Regions from separate parts of the Homo sapiens genome. Here all the other regions are linked to region 1. Evidence: fine-mapped expression QTL. A gene starts in region 1. Each other region holds a variant in brackets. All regions are shown on one strand. Distances are from middle to middle.

Evidence for each region. PIP is the estimated chance that this variant, and not a neighbour inherited with it, causes the effect.
Region 2: its variant is fine-mapped to the expression of ZNF696 in thyroid (GTEx, PIP 0.93).
Region 3: its variant is the best candidate, but not a certain one, in a credible set for the expression of ZNF696 in whole blood (INTERVAL, PIP 0.75).

The regions. Positions count from the first base shown.
Region 1 is chr8:143,288,402-143,293,454 of GRCh38, forward strand. ZNF696 (zinc finger protein 696) reads left to right here and starts at 3,016. Exons shown (of 3, transcript NM_030895.3): 1 at 3,016-3,366; 2 at 4,571-4,664. The coding sequence starts at 4,601. RefSeq lists an enhancer at 2,505-3,080 and a silencer at 2,551-3,270.
Region 2 is chr8:143,322,770-143,327,822 of GRCh38, forward strand. It overlaps TOP1MT (DNA topoisomerase I mitochondrial), which reads right to left. Exons shown (of 14, transcript NM_052963.3): 4 at 3,453-3,575; 5 at 2,577-2,764; 6 at 1,716-1,860; 7 at 1,230-1,373. Among named protein-coding and RNA genes, the nearest start is that of TOP1MT, 9.6 kb to the right of the region's middle. RefSeq lists enhancers at 1-289, 290-951. The variant T/C (reference allele first, on the strand shown) is at 1,987.
Region 3 is chr8:143,356,218-143,361,270 of GRCh38, forward strand. It overlaps a transcript of TOP1MT not described here. Among named protein-coding and RNA genes, the nearest start is that of RHPN1-AS1, 9.9 kb to the right of the region's middle. The variant A/G (reference allele first, on the strand shown) is at 2,469.

The DNA.
Region 1 (5,053 bases):
GTTTTAGTAGAGATGGAATTTCACCGTGTTGGCCAGGCTGGTCTCAAACCCCTGACCTCAGGTGATCCACCCGCCTCGGCCTCCCAACGTGCTGGGATGACAGGAGTGAGCCACTGCGCCAGGCCCAGCTGTCTTTGTTTTTCAGGGGTGCCTTTGGTAATTTCTTCATCGTACTTTTTTTTTTCAGGGTAGCAGGTAAGAGACTCAGTGGATAGGCTCATGGAAACAGTCCTTGAAGGGGTGGTATTCTAAGACTCAGCTACTTTTTTTTTTTTTTTTTTTTTTTTTTTTTTTTTGAGACGGAGTCTCACTGTGGAGTGCAGTGGCGAAATCTTACTGCAACCTCCGCCTCCTGGATTCAAGCAATTCTCCTGCCCCAGCCTCCCGAGTAGCTGGGACTAAGGCAAGCACCAACATGCCTGGCTAATTTTTTGTAATTTTTTTTTTGGTGGAGATGGGGTTTCACTATGTTGGCCAGGCTGGTCTCGAACTCCTGACCTCGAGTGATCCTCCTGTCTTGGCCTCCCAGAGTGCTGGGATTACAGGCGTGAGCCACCTCTCCGGCCTGGACTCGGCTACTTTTGGATCAAGAAATCCAGAATTTTCTAGACTGTGAACTTGCCCTTTATCATGGACATTTACCACCTGCAACTGCCCAGAGGTTCTCTGTCTCACCCTACACCGTGAGGACCCCCTTAGCAAACAGAATTCCAGGGCGCGGGCTCTTCGCAGGATCTGAGCTATTCGCGGGCGTCCTGAGTTGCTTGGATTCACTCCCCCACCCCCATGTCCCTGGAGTCCTGCCTTGTGTTTTCGATTCTGTTTCTCAGGGGCCCCAGCGTGTGGCCTCCCATTGTGGGAGAGCAGGAGGGAAGCGGTGAGGGGTGATTTCGGAGGAGGCAGAGCCCCGGGTGTCCGTGGGAAGCTCCAAAGCCGGGCCGCGGGACGGCTACCCTGGGCTGTGACGCAGTCCAGGATCTTCGCCAAGGCACCTGCTGGAGGCCCCTCCTGGGTCCCACGACCCCGACTGCGCCTGCCGGCTGCCAGCGAGGAGGCGGGGCCAAGGCGAGGGCGGGGCCGAGGCAGGAGGGGCGGGGTCGGCCTGATGGGCGGGGCTTCCGTGTGGGCGGGGCTGCTGGCCCTGCGGTCTGAGCCAGCGGGGAGAGGCCCGGGCGGAGGAGGCTGCGGACTCCTAGAGGTTCAGTGCCGGAAGTTGGGCCTGGAAAGGGGGCACCGCCTTCCCGGTTCTGGTGGCGGGGAGTGAGGGGACGGGCGAAAGCGGCACAGGGAACAGCATGACACGGGCCTGAGGCAGGGCACATTTGGAAAGGGGCGAGGAGAGGGCAGTGGCTTCTGGCACGGCAGCAGTGGGCATACAGAGGCAGTCGGGACCCGTCTGGAAGAGCCTCCGCCCGGGGTAAGGAGCCGGGACTGTGTCTAGGAGGCAGTGGGGAGCTCCGGAGAGCGAAGCGCCTCCTGCGCAGACTCGCGTGCTTGGAGTACCGGAGCCTGCAGGGCAAGAGAGGGTCTTCAGAAGACCCACGACGTTCCACTGGGATGCAGAGGGAAACGGTTACTTGTACTTCTACATCATCTCTTTTAGATGTGTGTGTGTGTGGTGTGTGTTGTTGTTGTTGTTTTTGTTTTGCGACAGAATCTCTGTCACCCAGGCTGGAGTGCAGTGCCAATCTCGGCTCACTGCAGCCTCCGCCTCCCGAGCTCAAGTGGTCCCCCCGCCTCAGCCTCCCGAGTAGCTGGTACCACAGGCGCCGGCCACCACGCCCGGCTAATTTTTAAAAAAAATTTTTAGTCGACACGGTTCTAACTATGTTGCTCAGGCTGGTCTGAAACTCCTGGACTCAAACAATCCTCCTGCCTTGGCCTCCCAAAGTGCTGGGATTACATTCATGAGCCTCTCGCCCACCCAGTCTAAGTGTTTTAATTTTTATCTTTTACAACAGCTTCTAATTTGTTACAAATAAACGTGCAGCATGTGGTGGGAGTGTTCAGGTGTTTACTGGTGCAGTGCGCAATGAACGCGGTTCCAGGCACGAGATGTGGAGGCCCAGAGGCAGATGCCGGGTGGCGGCGGCGCGGGACTGTCGGAGGCGCGGGCAGGGACCTGGGCTCCCAAGGCTGTGGCCCTCCCGCCCCAGTCCAGGGTCCAGTTCCAGGGGCGCGTCTGGCCCTCTGTTGCTGTCTTCTTAGGGTTCTCTCATGGGAATCGGTTCTTCAGCCTTTCTTTTCTCCCCAGAGAGGGTCTGTCTACTCGTTGTAAGAGGGAACAAGTCCACATTGCAGCTGTACACTTTGCACCCATGATGAAAAGCGTCACTTTTGCAGCATTCCAGCTGGAGATGCGTGACCTTCGGTCTGCGGCAGGCGGAAGGGCGAGAGACTTGGACAGGAGGTGCATCTTGCCCGGGGAAGGCTGAACGAATGAGAGCTCGGTCCCTGGTGAGAAAGAGCCCAGAGCCCGCGAGAGGCGGGCAGCAAGGGCTTCTCTGCAGCGGAGACGCGAGGGCGGCGTCCTGCAGGGAGGCGGGGGGCAGCGCCTGGGGCGCTCCAAGCTCTCGGCCCCAAGGAAGCCCACGCTCGGGACCCGCGTGCTGCCACAGCCCCGGGGGCCTGGAGGGTCCCGTGAGCCGAGCGGGACCCGGGACAAGCGCGGGACGCCGCGGGGAACGGACGGGAACGCGCGTGGCCGCCCCACAGCGGGCCTTCGACACCTCCTGACACGTCCTGCGGGTGCCCGGTCCTCAGTTGGCTCGAGCCGGATCCCGGCGCGCCAACGGCTCGACCTTGCCCCCCACGAGGCAGGGCTTCCTGCCCGGCAGGAAGGACTCGGCCGGCGCCTGCGGGCAACCGATGAGCTGAAGGCGCCGCGGCTGGGCCGTCCCGCTCTCCCGCCGCCGAGCGCGCTGTCCTCCCGCTGCCCAGAGCGTCGCCGGAAGTGCCGAGGGGGCGGGCCAGGGGTGGAGACTGGCGTTTCCGGCGCGCGACGGGGCGGGGACCGTAGCGGGTGCAGTCCAGCTGCTCTGGACGCTGAGGCCCCGGCTTCTCTTGCTGGGGTGTCGATTCGGGAGGGCTGAGGGCGCGGCCGAGAGAACGGGGCGGTCACCGCCGCCGTGGCCCGCGCGTCCCGCGCTCTCCTTGCAGTGCAGGCCCCAGCCGCTCTCGGGCGCGGCGTGGGGGAGGCGGCCCTGCAGGTGCGTACCCGGGGTCCGACACGTGCGGGGCTTCCTGCGAGCTGAGTCCCCGCTGCGCGTCTTCAGGCCTTTGTAAGTTGTCAAATTTCCCACCGGCCCAGCTCATCGAGCTTCTTCCCAGCTGTGAACAGGAGGGCCTGTTCCCTAATTCTTGCCGGTAAGGTACTTGCAAAAATCTGCTTCCAGACTAAAAAATTGCACTTTAAATTACCTTTTTGTAAAAGCGGCGGGGTCTCGCTATGTTTCCCAGGCTGGCCTCCTACTCCTGGGCTCAAGCGATCCTCCCGCTCAGCCTCCCTGGCAGGCGGGATTACAGGCGGCTTAAATTAAATTTACTAATTAATCACTTTATTTACTTATTTTTTTAAGACAGGGTCTCACTCCAACGCCCAGCTGGAGTGCAGTGGCGAAATCTCGGTTCACCCCAGCCTAGACCTCCTGGGCTCAGGCAGTCCTCCCACCTCAGCCTCCCTAGTAGCTGGGACTACAGACGCCCACCATCACACCTGGCTAATTTTTTGATTTTTTGTAGAGACGGGGTCTCACTATGTTGCCCAGGCTGGTCAGGAACTCTTGTAATCAGTCAGTCCTCCATCCTGAGCCTTTTGAAGTGCTAGGATTACAACTGTGAGCCACAGCACCCAGCCAAATTACATTTCTTAATTGCACTTGAGGTGAGACCTAAAAAAATGTATTGCCTACTGGTTTTTCTTCTTTGTGAGTTACCTATTCATGATCTTTGCCAATTTTCCTTCCTTTCTCATTAATATATAGAGGTCTTTATCAGATAGGGATGAATCTTTGCATTGCACGTATTCCTCCCTTTTTGGTTTTTTTTTTTTACATTAAATTTTTTTATGTAGTTGAATTTGTCAGACATCTGATGTCAGGCTTAGAAAAATCATTCCTCATTCCAAAACTTTACCATTCAAATAAGTTGTTCTTTTCTTCTGGTTTAACATTTTTATATTCAAATCCTTATAACTACCAAGAAAATTTTAAAACCCATGGGAATTTCTCTAGACATTTGAAGACTGCTGGAGGGCGCGGGCTTCCTCAGCATGGAGCTAGGAAGCTGTGGCCACGCCCACCTGTGCTCTGCGTCAGCCCTGGGTGGAGGGGGACCCGCAGAGCCTGGACCAGAGTTCCTGGGCATCCCACAGAACAGAACACCCGCTTCTGGGAGTGTCTGTTGAGCCAGGACCTTGATTGCTAGTGACAGGAGTGGGCCCAGCTGGGTGATGCAGCTCCCACAGGGCCTGTTCTGACAGTTTCCTCTGAAGGCATTCTGACCTCACTGCCCCTGGCCCCTGTACCTAGCCCTGGCTGTGATTTATTTTCCTTTTCTTTTACCTAAGCAGAAATTGTTCCAACTGCTGGTGTTCTGCAAGATGGAGCCAGGAGGAGAGCCCACAGGTGCTAAAGAGAGCAGTACCCTGATGGAGTCCCTTGCAGGTGAGGGGACATGTCCACAGTCGGGCCCAGAGTTCCAGGGCAGGAATTGAACAGGAATACAGGAAAAACACCATGTCTCAGTCACTGACGCAGAGCATATACTGTGTCCTTGGGCGCAGGGTGAGGGAGGGAGGTAAACGCAGGCCCATCAGATCTCCTGGGCATCTGTTTGGTGACTGTCTTTGCCAGTGAACTGAGAGCTTTTGGTTAGAAAGTCTGGCAGCCCCAGGCTCTGCCTCTGGGAAGGTCTCTCTCTCAGTGCTTCTCCACCTTGGCACCGTGGCTGTTTTGGAATGGACGAGTCTTTGTTGAGGGGCCATCCTGTGTGTTGTAGGACGTTCGGCAGCACCCTCGCCTCTGCCCACTTGGTGTCAGTAGGGCCCCCTCCC
Region 2 (5,053 bases), 34 kb after region 1:
CACACACAGGCACGCCACACACATGCACACACACATGCATGCCACACACAGGCACGCCACACACGCACACCACACACGCACGCAACACACACGCACGCCACACGCACGCAACACACGCACGCCACACGCACGCCACACACGCACGCCACACACGCACGCCACACACAGGCACGCCACACACGCCACACACGCACGCCACACACGCACGCACGCCACACACGCACGCCACACACAGGCACGCCACACACATGCACACACACACATGCACGCCACACAGGCACGCCACACACAGGCACACCACACACGCACGCCACACACAGGCATGCCAAACACGCACGCCACACATGCACGCCACACACACAGGCACACCACACACAGGCACGCCACACAGGCACGCCACACACACAGGCACGCCACACACGCATGCCACACACAGGCACGCCACACAGGCACGCCACACACAGGCACGCCACACACACAGGCACGCCACACACATGCACGCCACACACGCACGCCACACACGCACGCCACACACATGCTCACCACACGCACGCCACACACATGCACGCCACACACATGCACGCCACACCCACAGGCACGCCACACAGATGCATGCCACACACACAGGCACGCCACACACGCACGCCACACACACAGGCACGCCACACACGCACGCCACACGCACGCCACACACATGCTCACCACACACGCACGCCACACACATGCACGCCACACAGGCACGCCACACACACATGCACGCCACACACATGCTCACCACACACGCACGCCACACACATGCACGCCACACACACAGGCACGCCACACACACACGCACGCCACACACACAGGCACGCCACACACGCACGCCACACGCACGCCACACACATGCTCACCACACACGCACGCCACACACATGCACGCCACACACACAGGCACACCACACACATGCACGCCACACACACATGCACGCCACACACATGCACGCCCCACACAGACATGCCACACACAGGCACACCACACGCACAAGTGCACACACACCACACAATGCACATGCACACCCTACACACATGTTCACACCCACACACGTGTGCACATGCACACACCCCCCCCATCAGAATGAGGTTCCACCCCACACACAGGCCCACGTCGCCACACTGCACCATCCAACTGGGAGTCCTCGCCAGGAGAACCAGGATGAAGAGCCGCCAGGAAGCGAGAAGGCCGCATACCTTATCGATGAAATACAGGGCCACCGCCCGCTGTCTCGTCTTCATTTCCCGAGACTTCCAGTCAGCCCGGTACTGGGAGCGGATCTCGTCCACAAATCCCCGCAGGCGTCGAGCTGTTTCAAACTTCTGCCAAGCTGTCTCCCCCTAAACGAAGAAAATAACAGGAAAGAAAACATTCACATTCCTGTTAAATAACGGAGGAGGCTGTCAACTCTCCCTCCCCCAAACCTCGTGCTTCTCCACTCAGTGGTGCCGTGGTCAGGGGCTGGGGCAGCAAATCTAGCTGGGTGATGCCGGCAGTGAGCACCCATGCCCACTCCTGGCTTTGGGGCTTGTGCCTGCTGGCACAGCATGACCTCAGCACGGGCTGGCCGACTCCCAGCCCATCTCAGAAGCCTCTGCCGGTGCCCGGCTTACACACCTCCCTGCCGGCGTCCTCAGGGGGACCTCCTGGGGAGGAAACACCCTGCCAAGCCCTGCGCTCACCTTCAGCTTCGAGCAAGGGTTCAGCATGATGTACTTGATGGAGTTCTGAACGCTCTCGGTCCAAGCTGCCAGCCACGTGACGGTGTTATCGGAGCGCACCTCCTTCCACTGGTGCCCCGCCGGCGGCTCGGGGATCTTCGAGTCCCTGCAGCAGAACAACGACCCAAACATAACTTGGAGACCTTATTCTCTGGAATGCAAGCAAAAGGAGCTGCTCTGGTCAACCGTCCCACGTGGTGGCTATGGTGGTGGCATGGCTCCTGACCGAGTC[T/C]GGCATCAGAGGTGGCCTGCCTGGCAGCTCAGACAAAAGCAGCCACTCAATCTACCCTCTGCACACACAGGAAGGCCACAGTGCACCAGGAGGCTGGGCGGCCACCCAAGCAAGGCACCGCTCTGCACAGACCTCTCAGCACCAACTGGGACGACGAGTGCCCTGCCCCACACAGCCTGGCCACTGGGGGTCCTGCAGGCAGGGTCCCTACTCCACCCTGTGGTCACACAGTACAACATGTGGCCCAGCAGTCCCCTCTCCACCACTTGGAATGTCCCTCCAATAAGTTCAAAACACCTAATGCTACTGGGCCATCCAGATGGTGTGGGATATGAAAACCACATGGAGGTGTCCTTGGCGGGAGAAAGTCTCAGCCATAGCAAGGCGAGGACTTCCGACCCCGTGGGAAGCACCCTGGGAAGGCCGCCCTTGCCCGGCCACGCCTACAGGCTGAGCTCCACAGGAATGGTGTGGGGGTCACCAACCACATGTTTCTCGGTGTGCCTCCCTCTCCCAGGAGGTGAAGAAAAGCCAGCCTCACCCGGGTGGCGGGGGTCCAGTGCCCGCCTGCTGCCCGCCCGGCCACGCACCTGCTGCAGTTGATAACCACATCCTCTGGCGTGATCCTTCTCTTCAGCATCCCCATCTTGGGATGGTCGCCACGGCCACGGAACAAGCCAGGCGGCTCAATCTTGAAGTTGCCTATTTTTTCTTGGTGACCATCTAAAATACAGTAGCCGAACTCTTGCTGAAGTTTTTCTGCCTCTTCTTTTAGCTTCTGAGTTAATAAAACAGTCAGTGGACATTAGCAGTGAAGAGAAGAGAACAGGCCTCAGTCCGTTGTTGCTAACCCGGGACCACCCTGCTCTGTCTGGCTAACTCAGCTGGACCCTCAAAGCCCTTCACAATCCATGGAGGTTGCAGGGGCAGGGGACAGTGCAGGTGGGCTTGCAGGGGGCACCGAGAGCCATGGCCTAACCACCCCATGGCCTGGACTCCCCGGCCCCTGCACAGACTTCGGCTGTTTTAGGCCTAAGCAGTAAAGCCAGGTGGAGGGAGCGTGGCTGCCCGCCATGGAGGAGGAGGGCTAAGGGAATCCCTGAGAAGGCCACATGGAGATCACAGCACGGCAGGTTCCTGTTAGATGTAGGGAGACGCATGGCACAGAACAGCAAGAAGCCGACTGGCCTGCACAAGCCCCGCCCTCAGCCCACGGCCCGTCTGGGAACCCACCCTTGATCAATGATGGTAAATTATCCATTTCAAACCGGGTTTACTCTCAAATGTGCTCTGGGGAAGCGGAACGACACTTAAGCACATGCAGGGGCGCTAAGGCTGACGAGAAAAGAGCAGCTTTGTGAGAAGGGGCTTCTCTAAGGCCACAGGCCTTTCTCAGTCTTTGGGCCAGGCCGGCCTCTCGTTCCCAGGGGCCACTTCAGGTCACACAACGCTCGAGGCAGCCCAACCTGCTTCTCCTCCCTGCTCAGGACTTTCCGGGCTGCGGCCTTGTCCACAAAGTATCTGTGGATCTCCGTGAAGTCACACTTGTCCAGGCTCTTGATGACTTCCCTCTCTTCCACCGCCATTTCCTGCAAAAACCACAGACACGCGCTCTCACCATGTCTGAAGGACAGACATGCAGAGCGCTCTCGCCATGTCTGACGGACAGAAACGCGCTCTCGCCATGTCCGACGGAGGCGTGTGTGCAATAGGCAGAACCTGCGCACGGTCCTGCGGCCCCGTAAATAGAGCCTCTCCCCGCAGACCCCACAGATAGAGCTGGTTCTGTTATTGCAGGCATGGAGTTGGGTGGGGCAGCGGAGGGCACAGTTCTCCAAAAGCAACTTCACAACAAGTCAGTAGTAAAACTGGCTAAAACCTTTGCACCCAATAATTCCACTTTGAGATCCATCCTAAATAAACTCTCCAGTATGAAAACCCGGATGACGACCGCACTAAGGGCAACTGCAGAAACGTCATGACCGGACAGAGCAGGATACATGGTCGGGAGCTCATCTGGTGAACGTGACGGGATTCGCGAGGGCAAAGTCTCAGTCCATACGTGCTGCTGCCACAAAATACCGGGGACTGGTCAGTTGTAAATCATAGTCACAGCTCTGGGGGCTGGAAGGCTGGGATCAGGGTCCCAGCATTTGACGTCTATGGAGGGCCCAGTCCCTGCTTCTGAGAGGATGCCCTGAAGGCTGTCCTCACACAGTGGAGGGGACAGAAGGACAGAAGGGGCCCAGCTAATTCCACCCAGCCCTGCCCTAAGGCCCTAAATTAATCCTAAGGGCTGCAGCAAGGTGGAGTCCTCACAGCCCAATCAGCTCCTAAAGGCCCTCCCTCTGTCCTGTGGTGCTGGGGATTCAGTTTCAAGGTGAATTTTGGAAAGCACAGCAGAAAACAGTTTGACGATGATCTACCCGTGTGGAGACTAAGCGGGATAAAATGCTAAGTGGGGAAAACATTACAGGCACACTGATCACACTCACACGAAAACTAGTGCCCAGGAAAAGCCAGGACGCGGGAACAGGAGACACTGACCTGAGGGAGAGCCGCAGATCACAGGCAACTGTTTCTCCTTTCGTTTCCTACACAACAAAAACTCTGCACAGCCCATGGACAAAAGCCCAGGCTTGCGGGCACCAGCTCACGGTCCCAGTCCAGGCTCGGCCACTTAGGCCTGTGAGACCTCAGGAGCTGCTGTCAAACGTGTCTCGCTGTGGGATGGGGATGATCCGCCTCTTCCGAGGAGCTCAGGTACGACACCATCTGTGCCAGGATGGAGCCCTGCTCGGCCACAACCACGGGCTCAGGGTCCGTCCCTGTGTCTCCCGGGGCCGCCGGATGTGCCACCCACTCCTGTTCTGCTGCTTTGTGACACTGCCTCCCTTCCTAGCTCTGCTAGTGACTGGAAGAAGTGCTGACCAGAGGGAGAATGAGGATGCCGGGCAGCTGGTGCCACCTCACAAAGCTGTCGTGAAAGGCAGAGGGGTGGCATCAGGCCAAAGAAGAGGGTCCAGAAGCGGAGCCTGCACAGGGGACAAGGAAGCACAGGCTCCAG
Region 3 (5,053 bases), 68 kb after region 1:
TGCTTGCCATTACAGTTCAACCAAAGCCTGGCAGCAGCCGTCAAAGGATTCCAGGTAACCAGTAACCAACCCTCCCAGGATGGACAAGCGTGCAGTCCCCACACCTAACTCCAGCTCCTTCTACACCCTACACACGACCCAGGCAGCATGCTGGCAGCAGATCCAACCCTTCTGAAATTTGACATAAATGCACCTTGTGTGAACACAAAGTACATATTTTTAAATTTATCTAAGTAAATGATCAAAAAAGCTTTTTATACTTGTAAAATACTCATTTCAAAAAGGTTCATCCAGGTGCAGTGGCTCACGCCTGTAATCCCAGCACTACGGGAGGCTGAGGCGGGCGGATCACAAGGTCAGGAGTTTGAGACCAGCCTGGCCAACATAGTGAAACCCCGTCTCTACTAAAAATACTAAAATTAGCCAGTCATGGTGGTATGCACCTGTAGTCCCAGCTACTCAGGAGGCTGAGGCAGGAGAATAGATTGAACCCAGGAGGCAGAAGTTGTGGTGAGCTGAGATCGCGCCACTGAACTCCAGCCTGGGCAACAGAGTGAGACTCTGTCTCAAAAAAAAAAAAAAAAAAAAAAAAAAGACCACATGCAGTGGCTCACGCCTGTAATCCCAGCACTTTGGGAGGCCGAGGAGGGTGGATCACAAGGTCAGGAGATCAAGACCATCCTGGCTAACACAGTGAAACTCCATCTCTACTAAAAAATAGAAAAAATTAGATGGGTGTGGTGGCGGGCGCCTTTAGTCCTAGCTACTCGGGAGGCTGAGGCAGGAGAATGGTATGAACCCGAGAGGCAGAGCTTGCAGTGAGCCAAGATAGTGCCACTGCACTCCAGCCTGGGCGACAGAGTGAGACTCCATCTCAAAAAAAAAAAAAAAAAGCTTCATGAGGCTGAGCACAGTGGCTTACACTTGTAATCCCAGTACTTTGGGAGGCTGAGGCAGGAGGATCTCTTGAGCCTAGGCGTTCTAGACTAGGCTGGGCAACATAGGGAGATAGGGAGATCCCATCTCTACAAAAATTAAAAAGAAGAATTAGCCAGCACAATAGTGCACACCAGTAGTCCAGCTACTCAGGAGGCTGAGGTGGGAGGATCACTTGGGCCCAAGAGGTTGAGGCTGCAGTTAGCTATGATCACCACTGCACTCCTGGGCGACAGAGTGAGACCTTGTCTCAAAAAAAAAAAAAAAAGTTCGAGAGTAAAAACAAAAATTAAGAATACAACATATTGAACATGTTGAAGATTGTGAGTTTAAAAATGAAACATTAAGGCCAGGTGTGGTGATTCACATCTGTAATCCCAGCACTTTGGGAGGCTGAGGCAGGGACTGCTTGGGGCAAGGAGTCCAAGATCAGTCAGAGCAACATAGTCAGGCCTTGTTTCTACAAAAATAAAAATAAAAACATTAGGCCAAGTGCGGTGGCTCACGCCTGTAATCCCAGCACTTTAGGAGGCTGAAGCAGGCGGATCACCTGAGGTCAGGAGTTCTAGACCAGCCTGGCCAACATGGTGAAATCACGTATCTACTAAAAATACAAAATTAGCTGGGTGTGGTGGCACACGACTGTAGTCTCAGCTACTCAGGAGGCTGAGGCAGGAGAATCGCTAGAAACTGGGAGGCAGAGGTTGCAGTGAGCCAAGATTGCACCATTGCACTCCAGCCTGGGTGACAGGAGCGAAACTCCGTCTCAAAAAAAAAAAAAAAAATTAGCTGGGCATGGTAGCACACGCCTGTGGTCCCAGCTACTGGAGAGGCTGAGGCGGAGGATCACTTGGGCCCAAGGGTTTGAGGTTATAGTAAACTATGATCACCACTGCACTCCCACCTGGGTGACACAGCAAGACTCTGTCTCTACACAAAAGTAATAATATAAATAAATAAAAATGAAACATTCACAGTAAATAAAAGGCTGGAACCTGGTCTTCGCCCTGTCTTCCCTGATTTTTATGCTTTGGCTTCTTCACTTTGAGCTTCTTTGCATTTTCCAGCCTTATCTGCCCAGTACTCTCTCTCTTCCTTTAATCAAAGAAATACGCTCCTGTAACTCCAAAGAAGAAACGGCAACACCAGTGCCAAAATGATGTTTTTGACAGGAAGAAACATAAACTTCACAGGAAAGCAGTGACATCACGCCCCTCCCATTCCTCCCCTGTTCTGATCCTGGGCTGTGGTTCAGACAGGACCTACAGCCCAGACAGCTCCTTCCACCCCATTCTCTACCATTGTAGTGATGAGGTTAGACCCGAATGTTACAAGAGCTGGGCAAGCAGGTGAAGCACCCCCAGCAACAAAATCCATCATCATAAACATGCAAAGGCCACTGCTTCCCAAAAGTATTTGCTACCTCTTGAGAGCAACTTTATCATCCACTGGCAACTGCTTCAAATTGGGCCCCGACTGTCTCCCATCACCTATCTGCAACTGAGTGTCCCCACCTGCAAGAAAACACACAC[A/G]TCTCCAGGGCCCTGGGGTGAGCAGCAGGACCGTTCCACAGAGGTGAGCCTGGACCCAGGCAGCAGGGACACTGCTGCACCTGCGGCTGGAGTGACACCGAAAACACAGCAGCAGCTGAGAGGGCAGGAGAGGCAACCGGCCACGAGCCTCTGTTGGCTCCAACCACCAAAGGATGGTGCTTATTCCTGACCCCATTACTACGCAACCAGGCTCACTAGAAAGTTTCCATTAGCCGGTCTGGAGCATATTCCTGGGTGTGATATGCCATCATGTTCATGTTTTTTAAATCACTATTAAGTAAAGCGTTTTTTTTGTTTTCTGTTTTTTGGTTTTTTTTTTAGAGACAGGGTCTCACTATGTTGCCCAGGCTGGTCTCAAACCCTGAGCTCAAACGATCCTCCTGCCTCAGTCTCCCAAAGCGCTGGGATTATAGGTGTGAGCCACCGCACCGGCCCTTAAGTAGACTATTTTGAATGCTGCATAGAGACTCCCCTGAAAATAGCCTGTTCTTGGGTTTTAGCTGGGAGCTTATGGCTTTAGATGCGCCAGACCAAAAGAAAAAAAAACAGCTGCAAACCTGAGGTGTTACAAGGTGGCTGCCAGCAAAGCGATCCAGGAGAAGGGAGGCAGGTCACCACGCCAGGAGAAGAGAAGGGCAGGGAAAAGGCCAACTCCGGGAAGAAAGGCCCTGGGGCAAAGCGCATCCAAAGCCGTCACTCTGGGGCAGAAGACAGAGCGGAATCCCATCAGCGACGGCCGTTTCCAGACCCTTTTCCTAGGCAGCCAGACCGGCACCGCTGGCCAGGTGCAGGGCCCAAGCAGAAAGTCAGGAGCCAAGGGAGCGATGAGGAGGGGTGGGGCAGCCAGGGGAGAGGACACCGAGCGGGAGGGGTAAGCGAAGGGGGAAGAGAACAAGGGGGCCTGGAGGGGGGACACAAAAGGAGGGCCCATGGAGATGGAGGAAACACTGAGGGGTGAAGCACACGGAGGGGGGACACAGAGGAGGAGGGGACACGTTGGTGGCGTCGTGCGCGGAGGGGGAGGTACACGGAGGAGTCGCGGAGAGGCGAGGGATGTGGGAGGTCGTCACCAACAGCGCGACCTGGGTCACCCACAGGAAGAGGGCCACTGAGGGCCCCGCCTGACCCCTCCCTCCTGGTGGCCCTGCGCCCTCAGGCCGAGTCCCACCTCCTCTGCAGCTCTTCCAGGACCCACGCGGTCCCACCGCACCACGGCTCCCCCGGACCCCGCTTCCCCGAGGCCTGCGCGGAGACGCCGGGAAGGCCCGAGCCCGCGCATGCGCAGCCGCCGCCACGTGCCTGCCTTGACGCCGCCGGTGCTGCCGGGAAGGGGGCGGGCTGCGCAGGCGCGGGAGAGGCCCACGCGGTGGCCACGCGGGGCGTCCGGTGGCTGCGCTCGGTTGGGCCCCTGGGCTCGCGCGCTCCGTGGGCCGCGGTGCTGACGGGCACCCAGGAGGTGGGGTGGGAGGCGGCCGGCCGGGGTGGAGGGGCGTTCCTGGGCCGACGTGCTGTTGGCTTCCGCGACGTGGTGGAGTCTCGCCAGTCCCTGCAGCGCTTCTGCGACTCTGAAGATAAAGAGGATCGTATTTTGAGAAAAGCTCATGGAGCAAGGAGCTCAAGGAGCAAGGCCTGAGGTGCAAGCTGTCACCGGGTCGCATCTGCTTAGCAGCCTGCACATTGCTAGCGAGAGTCTCCACTCAGCCTGAACATAGTGCTTGGGAGGAGGAGGGCCGCCAGGCCACACCCGTGGGGTGCAGGATGCGCCATGTCGGGGTCCGTGAGTCTGGGGTGACGTGAGATCCCAGAGGCTGAGTCTGGAAAATTGAGCGGATGTGGCCGCGGTAGCAGAATGGACGAAGGCCTCCAGGCCGAGAGGGAGCTCTGTGTACAAGGGCACGGCAAGTGGCCACCGGTGGCCAGTGTGGAGTACGGCTCCCTCCAAAGCAGGCTCTTCCTGCAGGTATTTTATCCGGGAGGTGGACTCAGGAAGCACAGGTAAGGGAGTAGGGAAGTACACGTGTTGGGGAGCAGGTGAGAGCCGGGGCCCCTGGACTAGTCCTCCTGGAGGCCTCTGGGAGAGCACAGGACACAGTTCCGAGTGGGTTTGCTCTGGTTTTGAGGGGCCATCCTTGCCGCCCCACCTCTGCCAACTGCACTTCCAGCAAGCCCCGGGCATAGGCCAGCACCCCTAAGCACTGAGAAAAGCGCTCAGGCAGGAAGTTGCAGGTGCTGGGGGCGGGGGGGCGTTGGGGTGCATGGGAAAGGCAGGGTGCTGAGAGCGTCAGCCGCACTGCATGTGTGTGCGTGGTGGGGCTGGGGAAGGGCTGGCGCGTGTTGACACGATGGTGCGGGCACCGGGGAGCACCACCCCCACATGATCCCCTGTATGTTGCAGAGAGATGATGGCACCAGTGGGCACACTGCTCGCAGGTCAGGAGGAAACAGGGCTTGGTCAGGCCAGAGACAGTAGGAGCCTAAACCGCAGGCCTGCAGAGGTTGAGGGGAGGTGTCTGATAATTAGTAGGGTGTGGAAATGAGAATGAGCGAGTTGAGGATGGTGCCCA